Homo sapiens: one gene and its partner. The protein of the gene in region 1 interacts with the protein of each later gene in a biochemical or structural test. Each region holds a gene or a part of one and is shown in the gene's direction. Other genes may lie near its edges.

Evidence for each region.
Region 2: the proteins of TRPC6 (region 1) and ITPR3 form a complex in vitro, tested with the Homo sapiens proteins (one study listed by BioGRID).

The regions. Positions count from the first base shown.
Region 1 is NC_000011.10:101,576,689-101,593,271, reverse strand, and holds the start of TRPC6 (short transient receptor potential channel 6), read left to right. Parts: upstream 1-9,264; 5' UTR 9,265-9,768; coding exon 9,769-9,938; intron 9,939-10,004; exon of another isoform or gene 10,005-10,097; intron 10,098-16,583. UniProt on the Homo sapiens protein: Forms a receptor-activated non-selective calcium permeant cation channel. Probably is operated by a phosphatidylinositol second messenger system activated by receptor tyrosine kinases or G-protein coupled receptors.
Region 2 is NC_000006.12:33,680,322-33,687,321, forward strand, and holds part of ITPR3 (inositol 1,4,5-trisphosphate-gated calcium channel ITPR3), read left to right. Parts: intron 1-7; coding exon 8-133; intron 134-233; coding exon 234-359; intron 360-2,202; coding exon 2,203-2,323; intron 2,324-2,885; coding exon 2,886-3,076; intron 3,077-3,698; coding exon 3,699-3,847; intron 3,848-4,035; coding exon 4,036-4,144; intron 4,145-4,276; coding exon 4,277-4,367; intron 4,368-4,452; coding exon 4,453-4,622; intron 4,623-5,037; coding exon 5,038-5,212; intron 5,213-5,321; coding exon 5,322-5,506; intron 5,507-5,731; coding exon 5,732-5,932; intron 5,933-6,087; coding exon 6,088-6,198; intron 6,199-6,687; coding exon 6,688-6,783; intron 6,784-6,904; coding exon 6,905-7,000.

The DNA.
Region 1 (16,583 bases):
TATTAGGAGTCTGAGAAAGAGACAAGAGATTGGGCCAGAATAAGATATTTGAACTTATAATCACCAAAATTTTTATCCAAGTTTAGTTAGGCACAGGTTTTCAGATTCAAGTAACTCTGTGCTTGCTTTTGAGCCATCAATTCCACTTCTAGGAATTCATACTAGAGATGTACCTCTGTATTAGTCTGATCTCACACTGCTAATAAAGACATACTGGGTAATTTATGAAGAAAGAAGTTTAATGGACTCACAGTTCCACATGTGTGGGAATCACAATCATAGGAGAAGGCAAAAGAGGAGCAAAGCCACATCTTGCATGGAGGCAGGCAAGAGCGAGCGTGTGCAGGGGAACTCCCCCTTTATAAAACCATCAGGTCTTGTGAGCCTTACTCACTATCATGAGAACAGCACAGGAAAGACCCTCCCCCATGATTCAATTACCTCCAACCAGGTCCCTCCCGTGACATGTGGGAATTATGGGAGCTACAATTCAAGATAAGATGTGGGTGGGGACACAGCAAAACCATATCAATCTCCAATAATATGAAAACACACATGCACAAGACTATTCATTATGGCATTATTAATAGTTAAAAATATTGAGTACAGTTTCAATATCCACACATTGGTTATTGTTTGAACAAATTATGATTAATTTTCACTAAGGGACAGCAAAATTTTCTTAAAAACGAGGGAGGAATTTTTGGCCCACACAGTCTCTATTTCAATTACTGAACTCTGTGGTCGTAATCCAAAAGCAGACATAAAAAAACATACAAACAATTGTGCATGGCACATCAATCAAAGATCATTTACAAAAACAAATGGTGGGTCAGATTTTGCCTGTGGGCCTTAATTTGTAAATCCTTGATTTACACAATGGATTTATACAACAATACATCAATTTAAAAAAAGATTGAAGAGGATCTCTATAAACTGATATGGAGGGATTTTCAGAGGCTGATCAAAAGTGCCAAATCTAGAATCATTTGAGCAGCAAAATAAATTATGATGATAATGGATAATAACCACTTCAATCAAATATCTGTCCATGAATCCACGGATAATGAATGAATGGCAGAAAAAGAAAAAAGTTTTCATTCACTAACCATGCATTCATGAATATGAATTTTATGTATTTATACATATTTGTGTATATATATTTATTCTTCACAGATTATTACTCTTATTATATTATATATATTATTATTATTATTTCTGTGCTGTCTATTCTGTTCCATTGGTCTGGGTGTCTGTTTTTATGTCAGTACCATGCTGTGTTGATTACTATAGTTTTATAGCAGATTTTGAGATCAGGTAGTGTGATACCTCTAGTTTTGTTCTTTTTCTTCAGGATTGCTTTGACTATTTGGGGTTGTTTCTGTCTCCAAAGAGACAGAGCCAATATAATTTATAGAGAGATATATGAAAAAGGATTTATTAGAATTGGCTCACTTTATTTTGGAAGTTGAGAAATCTTGCAGACCATCTTTATCAAGTGGGAGAACCGGGAAAGAGAGTAATGTGTCTCAGTCCAAGTCCAAACTGCAGAACCAACAAAGCTGTGGTGTGATTTTCAATCCTGATTGCTGGAGAGCCTGAGGGCTACTGGTATGAGTCCTGGAGTTCAAAGACCAGACCACCTGGAGTTCTGACATCCAAGGGCAGGAGAAGAAGGTGTCCTGTCTCAGGGAGGGAAAGTGAGAATTCTCCCTTACTCTGCCTTTGCTCCATTAGGGCCCAAAACTGATTGGATGATGCCCACTCACATCGAGGGTGGATCTTCCCCACTCAGACCACCAACTCACATGCTAATCTCTTCTGGAAACATCCACACAGACACACCTAGGATAGCCCGATCATCTAATCAAAACCACAACTACCTGGACTTCCCTTTTAGCAAAAGAGGGATCAGTTCCTTCTGAAACATTAAGAATAACGCCTTACCTGCTATCTGAGTATGCCTTAATCAAGTCAAGTCCAAAGTTAACCATCACAGGGATTTTTGTGGTTCCATGAATGCTTTAGAATTCTTTTTATTTCTGGGAAAATGTCACTGGAATTTTGATGGAGAGAATCTGTAGATAACTTTGGGGGAGTATAAACATTTTAACAATATTAATTCTTCTAATCCCTGAACATGAAGTATCTTTCCATTTATCCATGTCTTCTTTACTTTCATTCTTCAGTGTTTTATAGTTTTCAGTGTCAAAGTCTTTTGCCTTCTTTGTTAAATTTATTCCTAAGTTTTTTTTTTAACTATTGTAAATGGGATTGTTTTCTTGATTTCATTTTTTGGATAGTTTGTTTTTTTAATATAAATGCAATTGACTATTGTATGTTGATTTTGTATCCTGCAACTTTACTGTATTGTTTATTAGGTTTAAGTGGTTTTTTTTGGTGGAGTCATTAATATTTTCTAACTATAAGATTATGTCATCTACAAACAGGAACAATTTAACTTTTTCCTTTCTAATTTGTATGCTTTTTATTTCTTTCTCTTGCCTAATTGCTCCGGCTAGAATTTCCATTATACTATATTGAATAGAAGCAGGAAGAGTGGACATCCTTGTCTTGCTCCTGATTTAGAGGAAAAGATTTCAACTTTTTACCACTCAATATGATATTAGTTGTGGGCCTGTCATATATAGCCTGTATTGTGTGATGTACATTGCTTCTATATCTAGTTTGTTAAGGGTTTTTATCATGAAAGGATGTTGAGATTTGTAAACTGCTTTTTCTTTAACTATTGAGATCAGGTGGGTTTTGTGCCTTATTCTGTTAATGTGGTATATCATGTTTATGGATTTGCACATGTTGAACCATCCCACATTCCAGGGAAAAATGCCACTTGATCATGGTGTACCATCCTTTTAATGTATTGTTGAATTCAGTTTGCTAGCATGTTGCTGAGGATTTTTGCATCAATGTCATTGAGGATATTATAACTTTCTTTTCTTGTAATGCCTTTGTCTGGCTTTGGAATCAGGGTAATGTCAGACTCATAAAATGAGCTTAGAAGTATTTCGCCTGCTTCAGTTTTTTGAAGTAATTTGAGAAAGATTGGTACTAATTCTTCTTTAAATGTTTGGTAGAATTCACCAGTGAAGACATCAGGTCCTGGGCTTTTCTTTGAAAAATATTTTTGATTACTGATTCAATCTTCCTACTTGTGATTGGTCTGTTCAGATATGCTATTTCTTCATAGTTTAGTCTTGGCTGATGGTAAGTTTCTAGGAATTTATTTCTTCTAAACTATCCAATTTGTTGGTGTATAGTTATTTGTAATAGTCTTCTAAGGTTCTTTGTATTTCTGTATAAGTTGTAATGTCTCCCTTTTCGTTTCTCATTTTAGAGTCTTCTTTCATTTTTTATTAGCCTAGATAAAGGTTTATCAATTTTATCTTTTCAAAGATCCCCTTTTAATTTTGTTGCTCTTTCATATTGCTTTCTAAGTCTCTATTTTATTTATTTTTTCTTTGATCTTTGTTATTTCCTCCTTCTACTAGCTCTGGACTTAGATTGTTCTTTTTTTTCTAGTTTTTTTTTTTTTTTTTTTTTGAGAAATGATGTTAGGTTGTTTATTGGAGGGTTTTCTTCTTTTTTAATGTAGGTGTTTATTGCTACAAACTTTTCTCTTAGAACTGCTTTGCTGCTTCCCATAATTTAGTAAGTTGTGTTTATATATCATTTGTCTCAATATATTTTTTTATTTTCCCTTTGATTTCTTCTGTGATCCATTGGTTGTTCAGAAGCATGTTTTAAAATTTCCAAATACTTGTGAATTTTCCAGTCTCCTTCCTGTTATTTATTTCTAGTTTCATGCCATTGTGGCCAAGAAAGATACTTGATATTAATCTTTTCTTTTCTTTTCTTTTTTTTTGAGACAGTCTCACTCTGTTGCCCAGGCTGGAGTGCAGTGGCGCGATCTTCTTAAACGTGTTGATTATCTTTGTTTAGTAGGTTTTACAACTTCTTTAATTACATTTGACTTATTAACGCATACCATTTGTGGCAAAAGTACAAGATAGAAATCTCTTATCCAGTTTGATTTATTCCACATTCCTTCACATCTCCCATTGACTTAAGATGTGCTCTTTATCATACCATAAAATCTTTTGTATCCTTTATTCTTTCCATTAAATTCTTTACATATTTCTAGTTTGTGTGTACCAATTTATATTATTTTTGTGGTTTCTTTAAATCATTCGATATTTTTTACACCAAGTTTCTTTCATTGCTTTTCTTTTTTTGGATTTTTCTTTCTTTTAGATATTTATTTTTAGAAATGTGAAAAAATAAATAGTAGAGAAAAACCTGTCCTTCTATAGGAAGACATAAGTATTGAAACTACTACATTCTAACTAAATCTGTAAATTTAATACAAGTATAATGAAACTATCAATAAAATGTGTTATATAATTTGATACAGACCTCTGATTATTTTTCAATTAGGTCTTAGTGAAGATTTATAATTTTCTTTTCATAGGTTTTACAATTCTCTGTTAAATATATTTCTGCTTATATTATATTTTATAGCTTTTATTATATTTTGGCTATTGCTGATATAAAGGAAAACTACTGAATTTTTAATATTTACTTTTATTATCTGGCATTGTACCAAACACATTTCTTACTTCTGAATCTAACTATTTTTAGCTAAAAATCTTGAATTTTTTATAGTAGACTATTATATAGCCTGTGAAGTAATAGATTTATGTCCTCATTTCAAACTTTTTCATCTTATTTTTTATGTTTTATTTTACTTATTGTTGAAGTTCTTAGCTATGAAAAATAGTAATGATAATGACAAACATCTTTGATTTCTTAAATTAATGGAAACATCTCTGGTGTTTCTCCATGTTGTTTTTATCTAAAATAGTTTTCTCTGCCATGTTAAAAATGTGTCTGTTACTCTTAGTTTTCTAAGCTTTTTCTTATTTCCTTTTAAAAAATGAAGAATAGATATTTTATTAACTTTTTGGATCCATGGAGATGATGATTAGTTTTTGAATTTTAGATTTTTTCTTACAGGATCTTAGTGTTCACTTAATTTTCCATAAGTATATTAATTTTCCTTGTAGTATACGTGGAAAATTGAGGTCCAGGTTGTATTTGAACATGTCCAGTGAAAGAAAACAAAAACAAAAACAAAACAAAACAAAAACCAGCAAAAACAAGCCAAAACAAAAAACCAAAAGCAGCTCAGTCCATTCTTGGTATGTCTTCATTTACTAAACTTGGGTGACATTGATGTATAAATCAACAATCTTTTCAATCGTCTTCTAACTATTTATGAATCACTCCTTTGTTACCCAGTTCTTATTTTTCAATCGTGCTGTCAAACATATCACACGATGCTCTTGGTAAACAGTTTACTAAAAATGTCCCAATAATTCCATCAAAAGAGATATTAACATAACTTGTTCTCTAAGTGAAACCATATTAATCACAAGTGCTTACAAAATAACCATATGATAATGTTAGAATTTTGGACAACATCTATGTCAAGCTCAAATTAGAGCAAAAATGAAATTAGCAATCTGTAGATTCTTCTATTTGTTTCTGATGGTTAATAACATTTTAGCTGCAAGACAGATACTAAATGTAAAGTATTATAACCCCTTTATTTTAAAAATTAAGAAATTGAGGTTCAAAGATATAGCAGCACCTGCTCAGATTTTACTCAAACTGGAGTTTGCAGGGCACTTTCATTCATAGAGAATCAGCAGCCCCTCTGAAGCTTCTGAAGTGTTTCTGTTTTCACCCGGTTGATTCTACATGTGATAGGAGTCAGGGCTCAGGGTTTCCATGCTTTAAAATATCCAGATGAAATCACGACTAAACTTTTATCTGTACTTCTGGCCAACCAACCCCAAACTGCATTTTCCAGAGAGACTCCTATGTTAGTGGTTTTCCATCAGCAACAGCAACTCACAAACTGCAGCTTTGTGTAACTTTTGAGCTTCTTGAGTTATTAAGCATTTAATGTTTTCTCAACCTTTTGCTTCTAGTGGCAATTTCTTTTCCTTTCCCTTTGGGCTCCTTGCCTGAGACTTCCTAGAGCAGCGGTTCCCAACCCCCAGGCTATGGACTGCTATCCATCTGTGGCCTATTAGGATCTGGGCCACACAGCAGGAGGTGAGCAGTGGGCAAGCCAGCGAAGCTTCACCTGTATTTAGTATTTACAGCTTTTTCCCATCACTTGCGTTACCGCCTGAGCTTTGCCTCCTGTGAGATCAGCGGAGGCATGAGATTCTCCTAGGAGCATGAACCCTATTGTGAACTGTGCATGTGAGCAATCTAGGTTGTGTGCTCCTTGTAAGAATCTAATGCCTGATGATCTGTCACTGTCTCCCATCACCCCCAGATGGGACCATCTAGTTGCAGGAAAACAAGCTCAGGGATCCTATCAAGTCTACATTATGGTAAGTTGTATAATTATTTCATTATATATAAAACAATGTAATTATAATAGAAATAAAGTGCACAATAAATTTAATGTACTTAAATAGTCTCCAAACCATCCATCCCACCCCACAGGTCCGTGGAAAAATTGTCTTCCACGAAACTAGTCCCTGGTGCCAAAAAAGTTGGGGACCACTGTTCTAGAGGACAACCATTTTTCTTTACTCATTTTTCTCCTATCAGCTTTTCAAAACACTGTGTTATATATATATTATATGTATAATATATATACACATTATATATATTACACACATGTATATATGTAAAATATCTGTTTTTGTAAAATCAAACTAATAATCAAACAGTGCAGATATATATAATGAGGCAAAGGTCCTCTCTCATTAACATCTCTTCCTCTGCCCACAGAGACACATAACTCACCTTCATCCTCACATCTCAGAATTAATGACTGAGTGTTTTTTTATTTCAATAGCATGAACATACTACATAAACATACATAACCTATAATTGCATAGCAATTTCCAACTCTGTGAGAACTATCAGTCCTGTGCTCACCCAACAATTTTTTAACTTTAAAAACTATTGTTTCTTTGTTCACTCAGCTTTCTTCATGACTCCAGATCTACTCAATACTTCCATAGTTGATTCAAAAATTATATTATTTAATCGTATTTTGTCTTTTTAAAAATTGGTTTCACCATGTTTTTAATGTAAAGTGATAAAACTGCATAGATAACTATATAATGTGGGAAGTTAGAGATTGAGGCGTAATTGTATACCAGCTTACTGATGAAAAAACTGAGGCAGAGAGAGATTTAATGACCTCTCTGAAATCATGTAACTTCAGTTAGGGAAGTGGCCGAAATAAAAATCCAGGCTTTGAGACTTCTGATCTAATGATTCCACTTCATCATGTCATAAGCTCTTTCAGAATCTTCTAACATTTGTACACCACCTTATTCCTTCTGGGTACTCAATAAATGACTGGGCTTGTTGTTCTAGTACTCACAATAATTCAAAAAAAAAAAAAAAAACAGAGGAAAACATGTCTTACCACATGATAAATTGATGTCAGAATAAGTTTACTGTAGTAATTTTTTCAGTGTGAAGGTTGTTACCTGTGAATGAAAAACAGTGTAACAACAGCAAAATAAATTCTGTCTCAGTTTTTGTTTTTTTTCTTTTTATGTGAAAGGTTAACACTTCAACTGACACTACAAATGTTTATTAATTTGGCTTTAACTCACAGAATTTGAATTGGGTAGAAAACCTTTGAATATTACTTTTCCCATGAATGTTTTCCCCATACTTGGTGTTGCCAAAGAGATTACCTTGGCACTGTTTAACTAAACGTTTATTGATTAATTCATTCAAGCATCAAAGCTAATGAATACTTACAGATAGCAGTTGCCACAAACAAATTTTAGGAAGAATATCTTATTGCTAGGTATAGTAACTAGAAAATTATAAGAATTTTAAATCATGGCTCCACATGTTGAAAGATCAAAAAGGAAGGCTGTTAAATCAGAAAGAACAGACTTCAGAATGATGCAGGTTGTTTGTTTCCCCAGGGAAAATGTTCTTTCCAGGGCCAAGAGCATTTTCTTATTTTTTCTATATTCCTTCCATCCATCCATCCATCCATCCGTCCATCCATCCATCCATCCACCCACCCACCCACTCACCCACCCAAGCATGCATGCATGCACCCTACACACCTGTGTCAAATACGAAGCTGGATCCTCAGGACACAGTGGTTTCTGCTCTCTCTGAGTTTCAGTTCTAAATTTAAAGGCAAACTCAGAAGTTTCTAAATGTGTGAGCTCTTTTCCCTTCTATCAAATCAATTGCATTTTCCCACACTTCCAACATTCATTTTGTTGTCCACCTGTTCATGGGAAGCAAAGGCACCTTTGCAGACAGATTTCAGTCTGGCTTTCTTTCATCCAATTGCAATGGGCCTCTGATCTTTTCATGGCTGGCTGCTTGCCATGCATGTCTCAACTTAACGAGCACCTCCTTGGAGGGGCCTCTTTTAACCATCTCATCTGAAGTAGTCATTCACCAGCTGCCATCACATCAACCTGTTTTATTTTCATTGTAGCATTTGTCCTTGATATTTTTTCATTTGCTTATTTAATTGGTCCCCCTTTCTGCCACGAAAGCTCTATGAGGGCAGACAGGTGCCTCATCTGCTTCTTTGCCTCCGAATTCTGAAATGATTTGAAACGCAGTTGGCATTCATTAAATATTTGTTGACTTAATGAATGGATTCTTAATTGGCTACTACTGCTTAAAGGTCTACAAATACTGATTCATCCTTGTTGACAAGTTTTTACTTCTCACACGTATGCATATTAATCAGAATTTAAAACTAAGTCTTAAAAATAAAACAGCTTGGAAACGTGGGAAACATCTGGCAGAGAAATCATTCTTGCATTCGCAGTGACGGAAGGAAAATTTTTTCTCTGAAGTAAGCAGGTTGTTGGCCTCTTTATCGGTATCATTGGAAAATGCTTGCCTATTTTTGTTGGTTTTCTCAGGAACTGGGAACATCTGGCGTTTGGAACATAGAACGTTGTTCATTTTTAAAGCAGAGTCATAATAACTTTATGAGTTGAGGGTAAGAGAGAAAATGACCAAAGAAAATGAAGGCAGTCTGGAGAAAGAAGAGGCTCGTGTCCCTTTTAAGGAACAGGTTTCCTTGGCTCTTTGAGAGTGGTTCTTAAAGGAAGCTTCCTACGAAGTCCGCAGTTGGTATCCTTACTAAATGAGCCAACTAAATAGTGGAGGGGAAAAAAAGAGTGCGTGCCTGGCTCCTCCTAGTTCAGGCTCATACCGCCTCCTGAAAGTTGTGGCTACAGGACAGGCTTTGGCTGCTTTCTAGAACGTCGCTCGGATCCCTTTAAAGGTGGGGATCTTGACGGAGAGTGCGGGGGATGAAGGCGGGAGCTGAGGGCTGGAGAGTCTCTGTTGACATAGTAACTCTTCAGCTCCGTCTCCCTTGCTCTCCGCTCTTACGCTTCGCTACCACCAGCGGCCCCGCCTGTGCCCTCTCTGCCCGGGCGCCCCAGACGCATCCTCGCGGGGTCTCCTCGGCCTGACCTGCTCAGGTCAAGATCCTCTTTGCACCCCCTTAAGTGGTGACTTTTCCCCGGGCCAGTGGGCGAGCCACTTGCGGCGGGCGTCTGCACCCCCTGCTTCACCGTCGTCCCCTGGGCACCGGTCTGCCCAGGTCCAGTTCGGCCGCTGACGCGAACCCTCCGCACCGGGTCCCCGCTGGAACTGCCCACTCGGCTCCCCCGGGAGCGGGGCCCAGGCCAGTCGGGCGTTCCCGCCATGAGCCAGAGCCCGGCGTTCGGGCCCCGGAGGGGCAGTTCTCCCCGGGGCGCTGCCGGAGCCGCTGCGCGGCGCAACGAGAGCCAGGACTATCTGCTCATGGACTCGGAGCTGGGAGAAGACGGCTGCCCGCAAGCCCCGCTGCCTTGCTACGGCTACTACCCCTGCTTGTGAGTGCCGGCGACGCGGGGCGGATCGGGCGCGGGCTGCGCGGAGGGAGGTTGTGCGCTCGCAGGAGTGGCCGAGTCCGTCCGCGCGCGTCCTGAACCCGCGTGTGTACCTCCTAGGACGGTGCTGGGAGGTCCGCGAGAGCCAGGGCTGGGACCTGAGTGAGTGGAGGGGCGCGCGGGGAGTGGGGGAGGCGGGGTTGTCTAGGTTTGCTCCTCGTAGGTACGCATGGATATGTTTGCCCACGAGAGTGAGACCGCATAGTAACACCACCATTGCAGGTGATTAGATGGGTGGTCGATTTCTCCAGACCCCTTCATCCTGCGCTCTACAAGAGACAGGATCGCTACGTAACAGGCGGGATCTGAACAGGGGGCTGATTCAGATGTGCGCCCGGGTGACTCTTAGCCTATGTGGGGGAGAGATGACTAGAACTCCAAGGGTTGGAGCTGCCTGGGTGCTGGGTGCGCCCGGCGGTCTCCACGCTTGGCTTAGCGTTTCGGGCTGAGCGCTGAGGTCCTTGGACCGTGGGACAGCCAAAGTTAGACCAGGACCTCTCCCCGGTCCTGGGGCCTTGGAGTGAAGACAGAAATAGAACCAATAGGACTCTCCACCGGCGGCGCGAACCTTTTCACCCGGGGCGTCTGGGGAGACGAGCCTGTTAGGGGCTGGGAGACTCACGGGCTATAGAAGTGAGGGCGTCGGGTCGTTTGTATTGGGCTGTGGGTAACTGCAAGCTTTTGTTTATGAATCTAGGGTATTTTTTTTTTTAGCTGGGTGGGTGGCGGGAGGGGAGGTAGGGAGTAAGCAGAGTGGACTCCAGAAGAAAAGACTCCGCTTCCCCGACACCGCTGTGACCACATGTGCAGCGGGCAGATAGCATTTCTGTCCCATTGCCCCTTTGGGTGATTGGGTAGTCAAGTTTCCTGACTTGTCACATCCACCCGCAAGCGGTTTCCCGAGGTTCTCAGCTCTATAAACAGCTTTAGTTGGAGGGAGGATTCCACCCCATAGGCGCCTGGCAGACCCTCCTGATAGATGGGTGCTGTGTCAGGGCTGCCCAGCCTCAAGCCCTGCTGCGGTGCCCTTTCGAAGTAAGAGGTGAGCCGCAGTAAAGGGAGCATCTAACTTTTCTCAAAGATAAAGGAGAATAGTTAGAACTGGTTTCATTCATCTGTGTGCTGTGCAAGTTAAGAGCATTTACAATTATGTATATGTTTTTCTTTTTAAAAGTTCAAGACATAATTCCCATACCACGTAATTCCCCCATTTAACTTGTACAATGCACTATTTTTAATATATCCATAAAGTTGTACAGCCACCACTAATATCTAATTCCAGGACAATTTCATCATCCCTCAAAGAAATCTTACACTTGATGTGTTAAATTAGAAGATATTTTTATGTCTCATAGTACAGACTTTTCCAACTTTAATGGCTAGCATGCAAATCATGTGGAAATCTTGTTAGAATGCAGATTTTGAGAAGGCAGGTCTTAGGTACAGCCCAAGATTCTCCATTTCTGACATCCCTCAGATGATGACAAGGTTGCTAGTCCGTGGACCACCCTCTGAATAGCAAGGTGATATATGACAAGAAAAAACAAGAATAGAAAGAAAAATAAATAAATCTTGGATATTCTGAAATGCTGCTATTTTAAAATGTACTTTGAAGGTGTAAGTTTAAGACATAGATGGAATTTTTATTGGTTAAACTTGAGATCTCCGATGTCTGAGGGTTATAGGTTTGGCAACATTACCTCCTGGCTAAACTAGGTGACTAAAAATTTATACGGCTTTTTAAAAATTAGACTGTTCCATGAACAAAACCTTTTTTCATTCTGTAATCCATATAATCACTTGTCGCTGTGTCTGTCAAAAAATGATTTGATTAAAAACCTTGTGGTTATATATCAGTAGTGAGAGAGACTAAATAAAGTAATAATTCCAAGTTGTCCTGAAAACTCTTCCCAGTGCTTTCTTCAAATGTGGCTTACTGCCTAATTTGTCTAATTATTGTTATTACATTTTTTAGCTACAAGTTCTCACTATGTTACCCAGGCTGTCCTCAACATGCAGTATTTAGTGAATATTCCCTTAGTTCAAGAATCCTGGACTATTCTTAATAAATAGAACTGAGCAGCAGAGTGATGAACAGAAATATTTTAATGTGCTTCAATTCATAACATCCACCCTCTGCGTGATGTCAGAGGTACTATAATACATGTAAGAGTGAGCCATGCTCTAGAATTTGGGTTTGGTTTTATATGAATCTATTATTTCCAAAAGGTTCTATAGTTACATTTCATCCACTGTTTTCTCTGACAAGATTTTAAGTTTTTCTAGTTGAATAATCAACTAACAGAAAAATTTTAACCAAGAAACAAAAGTACTTCACACCTATGATGTATGAGAAAGAGCTAAAGAAAATTACTCCCTCTGGTAGAGTAGAAATCAACTCTTCCATATGCTTTTGACTTGTGATTTATACAATTTCATAGTGGGAGGTGTATCATTTCTGAAAGTGGCAATCACTAGTACATTTTAGATATGAATATTGCCATTTCTCAAATCATTGAGATTTTCCCTTATAAGATCCCAAGTCTTTGTAAGTTGTCATTTCTGTGGAATAAATTCTATGACTCTTGCCAAAAATTTCTGTTTCATAGTTTTCTTATTTAGAAAAATTTTTTACATATATTTATGGGGCTTCAGTAGTAATGGGGCTTCAGTAGTAATGGGGCTTCAGTTTTTATTTATATTTATGGGGCTTCAGTTTTCAGTAGTAAAACTGAAAATTATGGTAAATTATCTTATTTGTGAGCAATTATGTGCAATAAGGCCTTAATAGTTAAATAAGGCCTTAATAGTTAAAATAGTAATAAATTGAAATGGTGTTCAGAAGAAAATGGCTCAGATTTTCTCTTTATTCAACTTTCAATAGCAAATCAATTAATATTCTCTATTGTGATCAATTTGTAATGGTGATTAGCAAGAAAGGCCCATGTCCTGCCAAGGTCCCAGGAGGCATTTCAGATTTCCTTTATTTAGAACTTTAAAGGTATGTTTACAGTTCATCACTGCTGAACTTGGGGAAGAATCCCAGACATTTAAAAAAGTTAAGCATTTCTAAAATCTCAGGATCTGAAAACACAGTCCAACTAAACTTTCTGCTTGGGAAGGAGTAATTGATTGATTATGAATAATGAAACAGTAAACTGTAAACTAAAGCACTGGCAATTCAGCTGACTGAGACAATCTGAAAAATTTATGGTTACAGACACCTGGCAGTACTGGATAAAAGATTTTAAATGATTTTAAAACATCTCCCAATTTTGTGAAAAATAAAAGGGTAATCTACCATGTGCTAAGAACAAAGACATTAAAAGCGAGTATAGATTGTGAAGTGATGATGTGGTTGCCCTGTGAGTTATGCGTCCCAGTGACGAAGAAGCCTGGAATCTGATGTCCATATGAGACAGAAAGAAGGTAAACTCTTGGTGCCAGATGAGGCAGAGAGCTGGAACTGAGATACCCCTGTGCCCTGCATAAAGCCATTAAATAAAAATGTAGGCTAGAAATATATGCCCACCAGCATACAGTGAGAACAGGAAACTTTAACAGTAAGAAGAAAAGAACACTCCCCTTGAGAATATCGTTTTTGGGGTTTTTGTTTTTATACCCTACCTAACTAGCCTAGAAATAGTCAACATGGAAAATACTCCTGAGGTTCCTATAAGAGTAAAACACAAAATCATTATGAAAGACTAGTATCAAGCATCTAGATTGCCTAGGCTTTTCAAGAAGAAAGCAAGTCCTGCTAAAGATATGCTTGCTATAATGAATAACAAAACACACAAGGAAACAATCGACCAAGAGTGAGAGTCAGTGGACCATGGACTCAATCGACCATGAGTGAGTAGATATAAGACATGCAGTAGTTAGTGGATTTTTTAAAAAGTTGAGATAATACAACCACATGAAAAAGAATCTTTAAAAGTACATATAAATGTTGACAATATAAAAGAATAAATCAAACCTTAAGAAAAAAATGACATTTTTAAAGAAAAGGACAAATAGAACATCTATAAGTAAAAAATACAATTCTTAAAAAAAATTAATGGAAGGGCTAAATGCAGATTAGAACATAATTGATGATAATACCCAAAATGCAGAGACATAAAAAATATTTTGTATGAACATCGTTAAGAGTAATGGAGCTAGAAGGTAAGAGTTCCAGGAAAAGAAAACATATAGAAGTGGGAGAGGCAAGACTTGAATAGATAATGGGTAAGGATTTTCCAGAAATAATGAATTTTCATGTTTATGAAGTATACCAATATTATTGTAAAACAGAAAAAAAACCCCATTTAAACATATCATTTAAATTGCAGAACACCAAAGACAAGAGGAAATACTAAAAATTAAAGAAAACAGAGATTTGAATGAGAGAGTTTTAAAATTCAAAGTATTTACAGTGGAAATGCACTCATAATATATTTTGATATTACCTTGGTTAAAGAATGTATAGCTTGTAAGAACTATGGCTTTTCCATTACATAAAAGGTTTACTCTCTTGTTATTAATGGAGTCAGTGCTCCATTGCTGATAAGGTCTCCGATGGATATGTACTAAATATTTTTAAAAGGTGACTTATTGCATCACAGTCTTAGAGGAAACTCAAAGTGATTCTTAATTATATCCTCTCACATGAAAAAAACAAAAAATGACTTTTAAAAAATGGGTCACAGATCCTTTAAAATTTTTATTGACTTCAAGAGGGTTTTGGGTGACCTGAACCCCATTTATGAAAATAAGATCCAGAGTTTGAATTCCCAGTTTAAGAAAGGTAATGTAATGTTAGAGACCACAAGTAAAATCCCCCACATATTGTTTTCTTTTCTCCAGGCAAAAAAAGTTAGTATTGAACACATTGATAATAAGGGAATGAAAAATTCAGACTGTAGGCTAGAGAATCTTTCCTGATATTACTTGCCAATAGGATAACTAGTCTCTTAAAGAAGTTTAAGATTGAAGAACATGGACTCAGGCCTATGCATCATATTAAATTATTATATCCTTGTTATCTCTCCCTTGTTTTTGGCAACTATGTTCATTGAAACATCTGTTACACATTTTTACATTTATTTGTTCACACGTCCTTTTCCTCTGACTAGAATGTAAGCCACAAGAAGTGGGTCTGTCCTTCATCCCCCTATCTTAACACAGTGCCTAGCAGAGAGAAGGTACCATTTAATCTATTCCTCAACAAAGAGATTTCCTCCTCCTTGATATTTATTCAAATAAGGAATAAAATGATGCCAGCTACTTTAATGAAATAGCATCTGGATCAGCTAAGTTGGGCAGAAGAGTGAATGTCCATATCAAAAGAGATACCTATATCTTGTATTCCAGCTGCCTGTCACAAAGACTCATCTTTCAGGGAATCTTTCACCAATCACTACTGCCACCAGCATACTACTCTTCTTTTAGCTCTCTAGCCTGAGGCTCTTCCGTTAAAGTTCCCTCTGCACACCTGAGGCGAGGCTATATCTTTACCAAAGAGAATTAATAAAAAGGGAAAAACTCCTGGCTGGCTATAACTGCTCTTCCAGCTCATTTATGGAGTCTCCTGGGGATTGACCCTTGCCTGGCCCCAAGCATTATCTATCTGGCAGCGAGCGTTCTTGTTTTCCCTCTGCAGACCGTCCTCAATCAATCTAGTCCTTTGTCCTAGCCCAGACTGAAGAATGACTGCCTCCCCACCTCCCGCCACAACCTTTTTCTTTGGTGTAATATCTATTTTCCAAACTTTATTTCTTTTTAAAATTCTCCTTCTTTCCTAGATGATTGACATTAGATATGTCTACTCCTTTAAGCAAAGATACCACCACTGACCTACAGAAGTGTGGCTTTACTCTCTGACCCCAAAGGGGCAGTCACATCAGAACATGACAGTCCAGCAGCAGTACGAGGTATTTCCAAATAAAATTAAAGGGCTGATTTTCTTAACAAGACATATTTATTGAATGGTAAGTGAAATCAATAAAAGAGAACATGTGCGACACAATGATTTCTTATACATATGTAGTGGTCTAGAACGCAGAAAGAATCCTATAATCTAGTATACCCTTTGAAATGGCATCTATAACCATAAAGCCAAGACCTAGACTTTGGTGAAAGATTGCAGTGTGGAAGCTTGCTCTTCCAGGGGAAAAGCACGTGTAAAAACCACCTTCAAATCTGGCTCCCCTTCTATTAGGAGTAATCGTCTCCCCCAACCACTTGGATTAATGGTGGGTCTCATAGCTGATGACTTTGAAGCTCTGTATTCTGCATGGAAATGACCTGTTTTGTGTTGAAACCTCCCCTGGCTTGAAGTAATCAACTCTACTGGTAACATATTATTATCGTGAAGCATTTTTAGGGTGCCAGCATTGTAGGTTGTGGAATGATTGCCAGATGTGCTTAAAAGTCCACATTTATTCTGTAACAAAATGTTTGCCTCCAGGAAGACATTGCATAATTTTTTTTCTCTAGACAGTTTATGCTCCTTGAGTTGTAAGAAGTAACTTCATAAGGCAATTCATCTTAAAGAGGGTAAAAGTCATAAAAGGAAAACATTTTCTTGAGTCCATTCTTATTTTT
Region 2 (7,000 bases), on another chromosome or scaffold:
TGCCCAGGTGAAAATGGCCTATGTGAACTTCGTGAACCACTGCTACGTGGACACGGAGGTGGAGATGAAGGAGATCTACACCAGCAACCACATCTGGACGCTCTTTGAGAACTTCACCCTGGACATGGCCCGGGTCTGTCCCTGTGAGGGGTGTGGGTGAAGCCCCCCAGGAGGTGTGGGAGTGGAGGGGCCCCATGTGAGGAGCCCCCAGCCATCCCTCTCTCCTGCCTCAGGTCTGCAGCAAGCGTGAGAAGCGCGTGGCTGACCCCACCTTGGAGAAGTACGTGCTGAGCGTTGTGCTGGACACCATCAACGCCTTCTTCAGCTCCCCATTCTCTGAGAACAGCACTTCCCTGCAGGTGAGCTTCTCCTCTCCCACCACCCCAGGGCCGACTTGCCTAGCTTTTGTGAAGGGAAGGGGGGAAATAAGAATACATATTTATATTTGCTTATAGTACAGAAAGAAGTAACAAAAGGATACATAAGTGTATTGGTTATCTTTTTTTTTTTTTTTTTTGAGATGGAGTTTCACTCTGTCGCCCAGGCTGGAGTGCAGTGGCGCGATCTCTGCTTACTGCAAGCTCTGCCTCCTGGGTTCACGCCATTCTCCTGCCTCAGCCTCCCGAGTAGCTGGGACTACAGGTGCCCGCCACCACGCCCAGCTAATTTTTGCATTTTTAGTAGAGACAGGGTTTCACCGTGTTAGCCAGGATGGTCTCAATCTCCTGACCTCATGATCCGCCCACCTCGGCTTCCCAAAGTGCTGGGATTACAGGTGTGAACCACCGCGCCCGGCCTAAGTATATTAGTTATCTATACCGTGTTAACAAATTATCCCCAAACCTAGCAGTTAAAACAACAAGCATTCGCTATCTCAGTTTCTGTGGGCCAGAATGACGGTGGGAATGGTACCATCCAGCAGGAACTCCTAACTCCAGTGGGTGGGCGGATCCCGGAGTGGCAGCACTTATTCACCAAAGATAAGGCAGACGTGCCATCCATGGGATGGTACAGCCAAAGCAGGGATCACGACAGTCTCCCTGGCAGGATCCTTCGTGCTGGCTAGTTGATCATAGTGATCTTAGAACTGAAATAGGCAGGCAGCCTTCTGAAGGCCTAAGCAGAAGGGCTCCAGGCCAGTGTACAGAAGCCTGATTTGAATCTCGAAAGATTCATGGCTCCTTGGTCAATCCCCAGATTCCCAGACTCGAGCCAGTGCTCAGCCCAGAGCCCCCCTGAATGAAAGCGAGCCAGGTTCCCTTAAGGAAGGGCCCTGCTACATGACCGAAATCAAAGAAACACTGGAAGGATACAAAAGAAACCCACAAAAGGGGCTACCTAGGGGCATAGGAGCTGGGGTGGGGTGGGATCGTGCTTCTAAGTCTGGGGGGAAAAATGCTGAGTCCTGCCTTCTCAGGAAGGGTGGTGTATTTTGACACACATTGTTTGGGCCCTGGGATCGCATTGGGACGATGGAACTCTGGTAATTGATATCAGCTTTCCCCATCCTTGATCAGCTCCAGGGCAATGAGGGTGATGGGGGAGAGACTTCTCAAAGTGTTATGTTTTTTTTTTTTGAGACGGAGTCTCACTTGGTGCCCCAGGCTAGAGTGCAGTAGCACAACCTTGGCTCACTTGCAACCCCTGCCTCCCAGGTTCAAGCAATTCTCCAGCCTCAGCCTCCTGAGTAGCTGGGATTATAGGCACCCGCCACCACGCCCGGCTAATTTTTGTATTTTTAGTAGAGACAGGGTTTCACCATGTTGGCCAGGCTGGTCTCGAACTCCTGACCGCAAGTCATCCACCCACCTTGGCCTCCCAAAGTGCTGACATTACACGTGTGAGCCACTGCGCCCAGCCTCAAAGTGTTATCTTTTAAATAACCTTTTGGTTTTTCAACCATGTAAATCCATCACCTTTTTATGACATTAATTTTTTTAAACATTTTTTAAAAGGGTCAGCAACATGGCTATGAGCCCACGGCCTTGGTGAGTTACAGGGCTGCCGTGTACAGTTGGGCAGGTCGTGCACTGCTGAAGGGAATACAAGTACCTTTTTCCAACTGGCACAGAGGCACATGGTGGCTAGTGAAGGCTCCGTCTCTCCACCCATGCCCATTCTGATTGGGCCCTGGTTCCTGGACCTGGGGTTGCCCAGGGTGGGGGCCTGGGCTGCAGCAGCGGGCTCTGTGACTTCTTGCAGACACACCAGACGATTGTGGTGCAGCTGCTGCAGTCTACCACACGCCTCCTCGAGTGTCCGTGGCTACAGCAGCAGCACAAGGGCTCCGTGGAGGCCTGCATCCGGACCCTCGCCATGGTGGGTGAGTGTGCCGGGGCACTGGCCAGCCCCAAACCACTCCTCCTGCCGCTCACAGTGGGGACGCCTGCCCTCCTAATAAACACTTTATCCCTAAGCTCGCCCATCTCCTGCTCCCAGGTGGTTGTCAGTAAGTTCTTCTTGGCGTCTGCCTCATCCTGGCAATTGAGAGAAGCTGTTTTCTCCTCTGGGTCAGTTCCCCAGAGAAGGATGCTCGCCGACATTCTCCAGCTAGTTTTTTATGGGTATTTGCAGATGGGCTCAGGCAGGAGCAGGCCTGTGGATTGTTAGGGACAGTTGGGGAAGAAGAGAGGACAGGTGAGAGAGAGGAAGGGGAAGTCAGGGTAGAGCCGGGGGGAATCAAAGAGGCAGAAACTCCTTTTACCCAACAAGGGGAAGAAAGCCTCTCAGTCCCTCAAGCATAGGCCGGGGTGGGGGGGGTCTCTGTCTCCCAGACCCTTGGTCTAGTTCACTCTGTCTCCTGGTGTGGCAGCCCTGAGCCTGGCCTCTGGCTGGCTGAACTGCCCCCGCACCAGCACTCCAGCACTCCCTCCCTTCCCACCCAGCCAAGGGCCGGGCCATCTTGCTGCCCATGGACCTGGATGCCCACATCAGCTCGATGCTCAGCAGTGGAGCCAGCTGTGCAGCTGCCGCCCAGCGGAACGCCTCCAGCTACAAGGCAACCACGCGGGCCTTCCCCCGCGTCACCCCCACCGCCAACCAGTGGGACTACAAGAACATCATTGAGAAGCTGCAGGTGGGTGTGGGGCTGCCTGGCATCTGCCTCGGGAGCTGCTTGGTTGAGTCAGCAGCTCCCCTACTTTGGAGGGGCAAGTTCTCGGGGAGTGTTTCTTCCTGTCCTGCCCACACTTCCAGGAAGGGGCTGGTTGGCTTCTCTACACTCTGGGGCTGCTAAGGGCCGACCCAGCAGCAAGGGACTGGGGAACCTCCTTCCAGAGGAAGCCTGGAGAACCCAGAGGCCTGCTAGTGGGGTTGGAGCTCATGAGGGGGTCGGGACCACCCCTCACTCCTGCAGCGCCCTCCTGTCTATGCAGCACATTTCTGTGCGCTGTCTCGTTGGCCTGTAGAGGGGGTGTGGTGGATTATTTTCCCCACGTGGCAGGAGACTGAGGCTCAGAGAGGCTAAGGGGTTTGCCCAAGGTCACACAGAGCTGGGAGAGAAGCCAGGCTTGGCAGCTCCCAGCCAGGGCTCTGAGCAGACAGACATCACGCTGTGTTCAGGGTGTCTCTGTGGGTGTGGGCCCCTCAGACAGAGGCAGGGCAATCTGTGGGGCTGTTTGGCGTTTGGGTCGGAGGAATGGCAGTCACACCCGGGTCATTTCTTGGGCCTGGCAATGACTCTGCCCTGCCCACCCCAGGACATCATCACAGCCCTGGAGGAGCGGCTGAAGCCCCTGGTACAGGCTGAGCTGTCCGTGCTGGTGGATGTCCTGCACTGGCCTGAGCTGCTCTTCCTGGAGGGCAGTGAGGCCTACCAGCGCTGCGAGAGTGGGGGCTTCCTGTCCAAGTGAGCGAGACACTGGGGCATGGGGGCAGCAGGGGTGCAGCGGCAGGGGACAGAGAAGGGCCCGGTGGGGACTAGACAGGCTCACTGGGTCAGAGGGCCTGGGGGTGTTCCTGCCTGGGATGGGGTGGGGAAGTAGCTGGAGGGAGGCAGTGTGGGGCTGCCCTGAGCTGCCTCCTTGGCCGGCTCAGGCTGATCCAGCACACCAAGGACCTCATGGAGTCGGAGGAGAAGCTGTGCATCAAGGTGCTGCGGACCCTGCAGCAGATGCTGCTCAAGAAGACCAAGTACGGGGACCGGGTGAGTGCCCTGGTGGGGCAAGTGCTGGGTGGGCCAGTCAGGAGTACCCAGGGGCTCAGGGTCAAGCCCGTCAGGCCAGTGGTCAGTGGTGGGCTGTACCCACAATGGGGCCTCACTCCCATCCTCCCCCAGGGCAACCAGCTGCGCAAGATGCTGCTGCAAAACTACCTCCAGAACCGGAAGTCCACCTCGCGGGGGGACCTTCCCGACCCCATAGGCACTGGTCAGTATCACCTTCCCCTGCCCCCGGGCCCTCCCTTCCACTCTCCTGTCACACCAGCTCTCCCTCAACCGAGTCCCGCCTCCAGGCCTGGACCCAGACTGGTCGGCAATCGCAGCCACCCAGTGCCGGCTGGACAAGGAGGGGGCCACCAAGTTGGTATGCGACCTCATCACCAGCACCAAGAACGAGAAGATCTTCCAGGAGAGCATCGGCCTGGCCATCCACCTGCTGGATGGTGGCAACACAGAGATCCAGGTGTGGGGGGCCTGGGGCCTGGACATGCCCTCCTTTGCCTCCCTCCCTTTTTGGAGGAGGTGGGCCTTGAGTTGGGCACTGAAGGCCGAGGAGGGTGTGAAAGAGGAGAGGCCTGAGCAGTGGCTGAGAGGTGAGAAGAGTGGGCATGATGGGGGCAGGGTGGTGAGGAGACGGGCTCAGGCCTGGCTGGGGCAGAGGGGTATGCGGGGGTGATGAAAGGACCACGTGACACAGGAGCAGATATGGGGCATGGAGCCGCCCATGGGTGGCCATGGATGCTAGCCACCAGCACCCAGGCCTGCAGCCAGGCCCCTGCAGCCCCAGCGGCCCCAGCAGTGTGGTGTGCCTGCCCCACGCCCTGAGTAGGAGCAGGGCCCAGTGCTGAGGTTGTTCCCTGGCCACTGTCCACCTCCAGAAATCCTTCCACAACCTGATGATGAGTGACAAGAAGTCAGAGCGCTTCTTCAAGGTGCTGCACGACCGCATGAAGCGGGCCCAGCAGGAGACCAAGTCCACGGTGGCAGTCAACATGAATGACCTGGGCAGCCAGCCACATGAGGACCGCGAGCCAGTCGACCCCACCACCAAAGGTCAGGGGTCTGAGGCAGAGGCACGGCGTGACGGGGATCCCAGGATAAGATGTGCAGGGGGGTGGCCAAGGGGGTGGGCAGCTCCAGCCTCACCAGGTCTCGCCCACAGGCCGCGTGGCCTCCTTCTCGATACCTGGCTCCTCATCCCGCTACTCGCTGGGCCCCAGCCTGCGCCGGGGGCACGAGGTGAGCGAACGTGTGCAGAGCAGTGAGATGGGCACATCCGTGCTCATCATGCAGCCCATCCTGCGCTTTCTGCAGCTGCTGTGTGAGAACCACAACCGGGACCTGCAGGTGAGTGCCTCGCCACACACCTGCCCCTTCCCCCGCTGGCCAGCCGGCATGCAGACTAGGCAGTGTGGCTGGTGTCCCTCTATGGCAGGTGTGCCCTGCCCTGGGCACTGCTGCTTTGTGGCTGGTGGTTCCCCTACCCCTGCAGCACACAAGATCGTGCTTCCCAGGCCAGCCTCCCTCTCCGTGCTGTAGCTGTGCTGTGCCCAACCCTTCTGTGCCCCGCAGAACTTCCTGCGCTGTCAGAACAACAAAACCAACTACAACTTGGTATGCGAGACGCTGCAGTTCCTGGACATCATGTGCGGCAGCACCACGGGCGGCCTGGGGCTGCTGGGGCTCTACATCAATGAGGACAACGTGGGCCTCGTCATCCAGACCTTGGAGACCCTCACTGAGTACTGCCAGGGCCCCTGCCATGAGAACCAGGTGAGCTGTCCTGGTGGCATAAGTGGCAGCCAGGGTGGCAGTGTGGACATGTGGGTAGATGGAGCCAGCTGGGGCAGGGAGAGAGGCTGAGGTCTCTGGAGCTGCCACTATTCTGAGAGGGCCTGGGCCCTGTGTCCCCCACTGCCTCCTGCCAGACTTGCATTGTGACTCACGAGTCCAATGGCATAGACATCATCACCGCACTGATCCTCAATGACATCAGCCCCCTGTGCAAGTACCGCATGGATCTGGTGCTGCAGCTCAAGGTGGGGCCCAGTGGCAGGTGTGTGAGTGCTGGGTGTGCATGTGATGTGCATGCATGTATGTGTGACTTGTGTGTCAAGTGTACATAGTGGTGTGTAATGTGGGTGTTAGCATTGTGTGATGGGGCATCATCTGGATGCACAAGTGTGTGGTGTGTGCAGGGTGTGTGTGTAATATACGCATGTTTAAGCATGCTGGAACATACACTCACTCTGGATGCAAATATATTCTGGTTTAGCTGAGGACTTGCTATGTGTGTGTCTGCTGTCTGGGTAGCTGAGTGTTTGCCACAGCGGGGGTGAAGGCAAGCCTATGGGTGGGCTGGCTGTGCAGGATGCTTCTCATTAAGCCGGGGGGAGGGAGGATGGGAAGGTCATGGCACCTGACCTTTTGTTGGATGGGAGAGCTGTTATGGAGAGGAATGAGGGAGAAGTTGTCAGGGGCATGGTGTCCTGAGACTGTGGCCTGCCTCCCTCTGCCCCTCCACCCAGGACAATGCCTCCAAGCTGCTCCTGGCTCTGATGGAGAGCCGGCATGACAGTGAAAATGCTGAGCGAATCCTCATCAGCCTGCGGCCCCAGGAGCTGGTGAGGCTGGGCAGGTGGGCAGGCGGGCGGAACCAGGTGGAGTGTGTTGGGATGGGGATGAGGGCCCGGCTGGCCCTACCGCCCTAGGAAGAGAGCATTGGAACAGGCACTGCCCCTCCAGGTGGACGTCATCAAGAAGGCCTACCTGCAGGAGGAAGAGCGTGAGAACTCGGAGGTGAGCCCACGTGAAGTGGGCCATAACATCTATATCCTGGCG